Linked DNA regions of Homo sapiens: region 1 is linked to region 2. Evidence: fine-mapped expression QTL. A gene starts in region 2. The other region holds a variant in brackets. All regions are shown on one strand. Distances are between the middles of the regions.

Region 1 (4,384 bases), 100 kb before region 2:
TGGTTGCTGTTACTAAGGGAGCATTAAGTTATTCATTTGCATTGATTGAACACCTACTATGTGCCTGGCATTATATGGAATGCTGAGGGTGCAATGATGTTATTCATCCACAGCTAATATGGATCACAAAACAATAGACATAGATGCCAAGTACACTGGCTGGGGTGGCTGGGAAGGCTTCAGAGAGAAAAGGACATTTGAGTTGGGTTCAGAAGGATGAAAAGCATAGAAGTCTTTGGGGGCACTTATTCCACAGAACTGGATTGAACCCCAGCTGTGGTGTTGGACACTGGAATATAGGGGCGACCCAGAAACAATTCCTGCTCCCTTTAATCCACTGTCTAACCATCAAGGGAATGAACAGGATGAATCCCAGAAAAGGCAGTTTTCTGGGCTGGGTCCCAAGAACCCAGGAATTCCCAGCTGGGTACAGCTGGGAGGGTCCACCTGGGGGTGATGTGACAGTCCACACAATCCTGGGCACCCCCTCCTCATCCCTGGACTCTGAGACTGTTTCCTCTGACGAGTCCTTGCCCTCTGCCTACCACCTCATTTCTCTTTGGGACCAGACGTGGATAGAGAAGTGGATCTCCCTTTGCTTCCTCACAGATTCTTCTGGCCGTTCAATTCTGGGGCTCCTTCGGGAAATGACTGACACAGCAATTTATGAATTCATTCAGCACCTATTTGCTATGGCCATACTCCATCTGCACAGGCTATTCCCACAGCTGTTGGGGATGTCATGGTAATCAAATCAGAGTTTCTTCCCCTGGAACTTAACACTGAAAGCCTCTGATAATTGTAGCAGAGTTCTAGTCTATGCCAGTTATTGAGATCATGACCTCCATGGTCCCAAACATCTTCTCCTTCCGGCTTCCCCTTCCCTCAAGGGCTTAGAATACTAGCTAACAGTTACATAACACTGTCAGGTACTCTTCTAAGTGGCTTAGAGATCATATCTCATTTAAACCTCCTAATATAGTCCTATGAGGTAGGCATTAGGATTCTCTCCATTTTATAGACGAGGAAACGCAGGCACTGGAGATAAGTAATCTTCCTTCAGACACAAGAAACAAATGGCAGAGCTGGGATTTAAACCTAGGTCACTTGATTTGGGAGGCTTTATTCTTAACCATTAGGCTAGCCTGCCTCCTTCGCTGACCACAAAAAATGTGCACTTGAGCCAGGAACTTAGGAGTTTCCTAAAGGGAGTCTGTGGTCCTGTATCTTGGATGATACAGCCATCTGTTAGCTGAGCCATAGGGCTGGTACTGTTTACAGTGAGCCCAGCAGGCCTGGAATAGAGTTGTGGGAACTGCACAGAGCTGGTATCCTTTCCTGATGGCTGTGTGTGTGTGTGTGCGCGCGCGTGTGTGCGTGCACACAAACGTATGAATGTTTCCCCCTGTGTAAGCCTCACTCAAAGGGAAAGGAGGAATATGAATAAACCGGGAGGAATGAACTAAGATTATATTCAAGAAAGAACTTCTCAACTTGGACGTGATGTGCCAGAATCTGGGGATTTGGGAAACCAAGACACCTCTTTTGTTGGGAATTAAGAATAGCAGAGATGCTCACATTCTAGATGTGCATTCCAGCTTGGTAGATGAGTAAGGAAGATGGCCAAGGAGTGGGTCCAGGCTTAAGATGCTCACACCTCTCTTTCCCACAGCTCCTGCTTCCAAAGCTGCATCTGTATATCCTACCCAGTCCCTCCAGACAGGCTGGGATAATGCTGGTGATGCAAGCGAGAGCACGGGACAGTTTCCATGGATTCCAGCCCCTTTTCCACCTCCTTTCTGAAACGCTTTTAAATTTCTTACAAGGGCCCTCCCCACAGGTTTGGGGAGGCCTTGAGGCGGTCCCTCTCTGCCTGCAGTCAAAGCACTTCGTGCATCTGTCTTTGAGAAAGGGATGTGTGTTGGGGGCATGGGTATTGATGCTGGGAGTCGAGGGTGGGAACTGGGTGGAGGGTGGCTGCACTGAGAAAACGGGTAAGCAGGACGTGAACCTTAAGAACTATAAACCTCCAAGCTGCTCTTCTCCCACGCACGCACCTTCCTCCCTCACTCGCTGGTAGGGTGGGGTGCAGCGGAGCCCTTGGCACGCCCTGGCCCCCTGCCCCAGGCACTGGCTTGGCTGTGGAGAACAGGTTGTACTCTTGAAAAACCACAAGAGGAAGTTTAGGGAGGGCTGGGGGTGGGGAAAGTTCTGGGGCCCCTGCCAAGTTTCCCTTTCCCTGCTGAGCAGTAGATGTGTTTATCTTGCTCTCAAAGACATTTAAATTTTAAATCCTCAAGTTTCAAAGAGCTGTCAAGGCCTGCCCCTTTCTAGGGGTGGCAACAGACACTGCTAGAAATGGCATTGGAACAAGTTACCCATCTGTTGGAATTC[C/A]CCTGGGATTCGTGCAGGTTGAGAAAGGCTAATTCCAGAAAGTCTCTTCTTTGGCCCCTTCACTTTTCTCTTCCCCAAAGCATTTCCTACAACCTTTAAACTCAGAGGAATGTGGCTGTAATTGCCACTTAGGAGCTGAATGGTGTTGCGGGAGCTGTCCCTAAGTTTTTACTTGTACTGTCTCATTTAATATTTATTCACCACAACTCTAGGTAGTAAACACCTCTATCTCCAATTTACAGATAGGAAACTGAGGCTCAGAAAGGCAAACTTGCTCAAAGTAATTTAGCTAGTAAGTGGCAGAGCTTGGAATTGAACGAGGATCTATCTGATTTCAAAGTCTAGGCTCTTTACTCGTGAATTAACTCTCAGTCTGAGCATTGACTTTCCTAATATATCAAACACTGAGACAGGGAGGCTGAAATATAAAGGGATTTTTTTAAATGCTGCTGCTAGTATGGGAGAGGGATAGAATTGGAAGGGATTCCTTGGAAGTTAATGTATTTAAGAAAGGATAGCCACTGGGCACAGTGGCTCACGCCTGTAATCCCAGCACTTTGGGAGGCCAAGGTGGGCGGATCACGAGGTCAGCAGTTCGAGACCAGCCTGACCAACATGGTGAAACCTCATCTCTACTAAAAATACAAAAAAAAAAAAAAAAAAAACGTTAGCCGGGCGTGGTCGCACGGGCCTGTAATCCCACCTACTCAGGAGGCTGAGGTGGGAGAATCACTTGAACCCGGGAGGCGGAGGTTGCAGTGAGCCAAGATCACGCCATCGCACTCCAGCCTGGGCAACAGAGTGAGACTCCGTCTCAAATAAATAAATAAATAAATAAAAGGAAAGAAAGAAAAGAAAGAAAAGATAGCCAAGTTAAAAAAAGATGCAGGAGGTGAGAGGTCAGGTCAAATTCTGGAAGATTGCAGCAAAGGGGAAGATTTAGGAGGAATACTATAGCTGTATGCAAATATTTAAAAGTTTGCCCTGGCAAACCTTGAAGTAGGGGGTTAGTGGGACTAGTGGAGGCAGATTTTCAAAAAACGTAGAACTTTCTAACAAATGGGGCTTAGAGCTCATGCTATAAGAGGGGCCTCTGCCAGCAAGACGACCTCAAAGCCCCTTCGCCTGTAAACCCCTGATGTGATTTTCCCCCTGCTTTCCTCTTCTATGTCATTCTTTGCTCTCCCATACTCCCTGGCCCGTGGTAGTCCCTGATCGTCCACCAGGTGGAGCTGTTGCCCCGTGTGTCACCTTGGGGTGACTGGATTGGGTGAATGAAGAGTGTTGCCGGGTTCTTCAGGCGCTGACTGGTTTCAGGGAGCCTCTGCTCCCAGCCCATCACCAGCTGTTTACACACCGGGGCCCAGAGAACTGCTTTTGATCCAGCAAAGCCCCCGTAAAAGGTGCTCTTCTGTCTTGTCCAGGCTCCGGCCAGAACGTGCAGGCCTCCGCCTCTGCGGCATACACCCGTCCCCAGGTCAGGGATTTCTTCCACATCTTCTCTTTCCCCTTCCTGACTGTCCTTTCCCTTTGAGAGAGAGGGACCCGTGTGCCCAGAGCAGAGGGCAGGACCGACGGCCCTGCGAGCCAGCAGGGTAGCTAATGTGGCATGGCCTTTTATGCCCTTCAGAGGGCATGACACCTGTGTCATCTCCCGGAAGGGGCCTCAGGAGCCCCACCTCTCTGAAACTATTTGCACTCAGTGGCCTGACCAGTTCTCCCACCCTGGGTGAAATTCCCCAGGACAGTCGTTCCTGAGGTGAGGGCTGAGGGGTTATCTCTGGAAGGAGACGGTTGCTGGTACCTCCGTCGTTGGCCCAGATCTGCTTGCTGCCCCCTCAGACCTTTAGAGAGGCACAGAGCCACTGGGCCTCCAGGGACACAGAGGCAGAGCCCAGAATGAGCAAGGACACCCTGATTTTTTTGAGACAGGGTCTCACTCTGTCGCCCAGGCTGGAGTGCAGTGGCGTGATCTCGGCTCACTGCAGCC
Region 2 (4,384 bases):
GAAGTGTATCAAAAGCCTTAGAATGTTTCATAACCTTAGATTGGGAAATTCCACTTCTAGAAATTAATTCACTTCTAGAAATAATCATGAGTGTGCACAAAGATATTACCACAAAAATATTTTACAGTATTATGTCTAATAGAGAAGAACTAGAAATAATTTAAATTTCCACCAATACAGGTTTGCCAAAATACATTTTGTACATTCACCTAATGGTATATTATGTCCCTATTACAAATTATGTCCTAGAATATTTAATAGCATGGAAAAGTGTTAACAGTATTTTTTTAATGAAAAAAGCTTACAAAACAGTTTGTGATGATTCCATTTAAAATGTGTGTTTATTCATAGAACAAAGATTAGAAAAATAAACATTGATATATTAAAGGGTTATTTCATGGCAAATTGCAAATGATTATTTCCTTTTTTTGTGGCTTATTTGTATTTTTGAAGTTTTCTACAATGTAAAAGAATATTTTATGATATGAAAACTACAATACAATTTATAATATAAGAAAGAATAATTCGGCCGGGAACGGTGGCTCACGCCTGTAATCCCAGCACTTTTGGAGGCCGAGACCGGCGGATCACGAGGTCAGGGGTTCAAGACTAGCCTGGCCAACATAGTGAAACCCCATCTCTACGAAAAATACAAAAATTAGTCAGGCATGGTGGTGCGTGCCTGTAGTCCCAGCTACTCGGGAATTGCTTGAACCCGGGAGGTGGAGGTTGCAGTGAGCCCAGATCGCACCACTGCACTCCAGCTTGAGCAACAGAGTGAGACTTCGTCTCAAAAAAAAAAAAAAAAAAAAAAAAGAATAATTAACAGAAAATGGTTAGACACTTCCTTAGTGTCTCCTAAGTCAGGAGGACCCCAGTAGGGCAGGGATCCTCATGGCCTCCTCCCATTTGGAGCATTATTGGAGGTCTTTTTCGGCCTCTTCGTCAAGTGGAATCTAGCTTCCGGTAAAACTACAAAGTAACCAAAAGTTTGGGAGGTGGAAGAAATGCAACCGGTAGATCTCACAGAGTCTGTGCAAGAAACTGATTCAATGAGAATCTAGTTTCTCCGTCCACAGTTTCTCCAAACAGAAACTAAGGCCGACTTTAGGGGCTTGTCCAAACCTAGGCAAGCAACTTAACAAGGTGAGGCCATGACTCCATGGCCTTTCCGTTCTGTTATATGCTGACTTAGACTAAAGCTCTCATACTTTAAAGTGCACAGAAATCTAGTTAAAATGCAGATTCTGATTCAGGTTAGGGGTGGGCCTGAGAGTCTGCATTTCTAACCAGCTCCCAGGCGATGACCACGCACGGGACAGGTCTGGGATCACAGTTTAACTAGCAATGGTGTAGAACACAGAATCTGCAGCAAGAAGGCCAGCTTCCCAATCCTAGCTCTGCCACGGACCAACTGAATGACAGTTGCCTCGGTTTCCGAGTTTTCGTGAAGATGTAGTGAGTCATTACATCGTGAGGCTTTCGAGCAGCGTTCACTAAGAACTAGCTCTGACATTATTTATCGCATTCCTTAGAGCAAGCAGCCGGTGAAGTAGGGTTTGACGAATGAATAAGTGAATGAATGACCTTTGGAGAAAAATTGTTTCCTGGGTGACTAGAGTCCGAGAAGCAAAATGGGAGGGCCCGTGGGTGGGTAGGAGGCCCACCTCCTAGAAAGTTCTCTGCACCCGGTGGTCCAGAGGGCCTGGAGTGCCCGGAAGCCGGCCGGCTTGCGCTCAGCGGCCCAATGGGGCCGCGGGAGGGAGGGGAGAGCGCTCAGCCAACCCTTTCCGTCCGGGGCGCCGCAGCCCCGCCCCTCGGAGCGTTGCGACGTCCGAGCATTCCACGGTTGCTACATCGTCGCGAGGGGCGGGGCGCCTGTCAGGGAAGCGGCGCGCGCGCGCGGGCGGCGGGCGGGCTGGGGATCCGCCGCGCAGTGCCAGCGCCAGCGCCAGACCCGCGCCCCGCGCTCTCCGGCCCGTCGCCTGCCTTGGGACTCGCGAGCCCGCACTCCCGCCCTGCCTGTTCGCTGCCCGAGTATGGAGCTGCTGTGTTGCGAAGGCACCCGGCACGCGCCCCGGGCCGGGCCGGACCCGCGGCTGCTGGGGGACCAGCGTGTCCTGCAGAGCCTGCTCCGCCTGGAGGAGCGCTACGTACCCCGCGCCTCCTACTTCCAGTGCGTGCAGCGGGAGATCAAGCCGCACATGCGGAAGATGCTGGCTTACTGGATGCTGGAGGTACCGCCCGGACGCGTCCCCCTCCCCCACCGCTCCCGGGTCTGGACACACCGGGGCCGCCCTGTCGGGACATCCCGGTCCCCACAGCAATCTGCAGGATGCTCCGAGGCTAAGACTCCCGGGGCCTGGCCTTTCACTAGGGCACCCACGCCAGCTGCCTCCCTTGCTTTCCCGAGCCCTAATCGGCTCCTCCCGACAGTGACTGCCAGTCACTTGGCACCCTAACTGTGCCTCTCTTCGGGCCGAGCAAACGGGACCAAGGACACTCTCTCCCCTTCGGCTTCTCACAGCGTCTCCCGCTTCCCTCCGCCTCCCGGCCTTCTCCGGAGAGCGCGCCTGGAAAACCCTGGGCTCGGCCGCCCCCGCCCGGGAGCCGGTTCCTGTGTCTTTCGCGGGGTTCTGGCGGGGAAGGCGATGGGGGTGGCGCGCGCCCTGTTCCGGCCGACAGGGAAATGAAAAGTGCAGGAGGCAGCGGCAGGAGCCTCCTCCCTTCCCCTCGGGTGTGTGCAGTGGTGGCGGTGATGGGGGTGAGGTCCCAGCTCTCTGGCTACCATGGGTGACCCTTGCGTCCCACTTCCCCTCGCTGTGGGGGAGGGGAGTCTCCGTTTGGAATCCTCCGTGAGCAAGGGCTCCTTGGCTTTACCACTCCCCCGTCAAGGGGAGAGGGGAGGAGGCCGCGCAGAGGAAGTGGGGGGCGTCACCTTGGGGAGGGCGCATCCTCCTCCTTTATTGGTCCTTGTCTCTCTAAGTAGCTTACCCTCTCTGCCGTTTTTGCTCCCTATCCCACCTCACTTCAGCGCTCCCACCCCCCCGCTGCTGTGTTCCCCACGCTCCAGACCCAGCAGTGACTGTGCGCCCTCCCCCAGGTATGTGAGGAGCAGCGCTGTGAGGAGGAAGTCTTCCCCCTGGCCATGAACTACCTGGATCGCTACCTGTCTTGCGTCCCCACCCGAAAGGCGCAGTTGCAGCTCCTGGGTGCGGTCTGCATGCTGCTGGCCTCCAAGCTGCGCGAGACCACGCCCCTGACCATCGAAAAACTGTGCATCTACACCGACCACGCTGTCTCTCCCCGCCAGTTGCGGGTGCGTGTGTAACTCCCCCCACCCCCGACACGTATTGTCTCCCCACTTTCCAGGAAAAGGAAAGCTTGAGATATCAGAGGCTTTCTGCCCCCTGGAGAGGAAGCAAGGGGATCAGGACCTTTGGGAAAGGAATTGGGGTGGAACAAACGATGGGGCATTGTGGTGTGATGGTTAGTATCACTCCCGCCCAGGCTTGAGCTGCAGGCAGGCATTAAACCCCCTCCTCCTGACCTCCAGGGGATGCCACTCCTTCCTGGTCTTTCCCCCAGATAGCAACAAGTCAAATTGCATGTCTACACTCACTAGTACTTTGCCTCTGGGTTTACGCAGCCACCATGAGTTATTTATTGGCAGCAGAAGGGCATGCCTGCACACCCCCACTGGAGTAGGGGAGTGGAATGTGCTTCATGTGGGGGAGGGGGTTTTGCCTTGGTTGAGTCTTTATCCTCATGTGGACTTTGTGATAGAAAAGCCTCCCAGAGCCAATTAAAGCCAGGCCCTGATTGCTTTAAGGAAGGGCTGATGTATTTCATCCCACCTTCTTTGCTTCCTCTTATATCCCGGAAGAAACAGCTTCTTCCTAATCCTTCCTCGTCCTCATTCTGAGGAACTGGAGCAGCTGCTTTGGGCCTGGTGGAAACAGCTCCCTCTTCCCCCCTTAGCCCAAGGCCCAAGCTGAGGGACAGACAGGGAGGTGAGCTGCATCTGCTTCCGATGTGATAATGGTGCCCCCTCCCCTGGCCCGCCCTCTCTGACCAAGGTCTTTCATAACCCTGTGGGGAGCTGCTGTCACTCCTGTGGTTTGGGAAGTGGCTCCCTGGGCCTCTTGCTGGAAACTTGGGCTGGGCTCAGGCCGGGCAGGAAAGTCACCGGTTCTGTCCCGCCTCAGAAGGAGCCTGGGGAGGAGGCGGGGGAGCTGCTGGATCTGGAAGAGGTTATTTAGGACATGCAGATTGTCTCCTAGGGAGGCTGGGGGAGAGGGTGGGTGAGCTGGCACCTTCCTCCACCTTGCTCTGTGGCGGGCCAAGTCTTCTGCTGACCCTGAGAGGAGTCTCTGGGCCCCAT

Evidence for each region.
Region 1: its variant is fine-mapped to the expression of CCND3 in fibroblasts (GTEx, PIP 0.90).

The regions. Positions count from the first base shown.
Region 1 is chr6:42,043,633-42,048,016 of GRCh38, reverse strand. It overlaps a transcript of CCND3 not described here. Among named protein-coding and RNA genes, the nearest start is that of TAF8, 4.7 kb to the left of the region's middle. RefSeq lists enhancers at 1,791-1,840, 1,525-2,114, 2,141-2,290, 2,115-2,705, 3,298-3,347 and 1 more. The variant C/A (reference allele first, on the strand shown) is at 2,395.
Region 2 is chr6:41,939,305-41,943,688 of GRCh38, reverse strand. It overlaps CCND3 (cyclin D3), which reads left to right and starts at 1,881. Exons shown (of 5, transcript NM_001760.5): 1 at 1,881-2,237; 2 at 3,104-3,319. The coding sequence starts at 2,040. RefSeq lists a silencer at 1,733-2,182 and enhancers at 1,699-2,650, 2,693-2,822, 3,904-4,198, 3,779-4,384.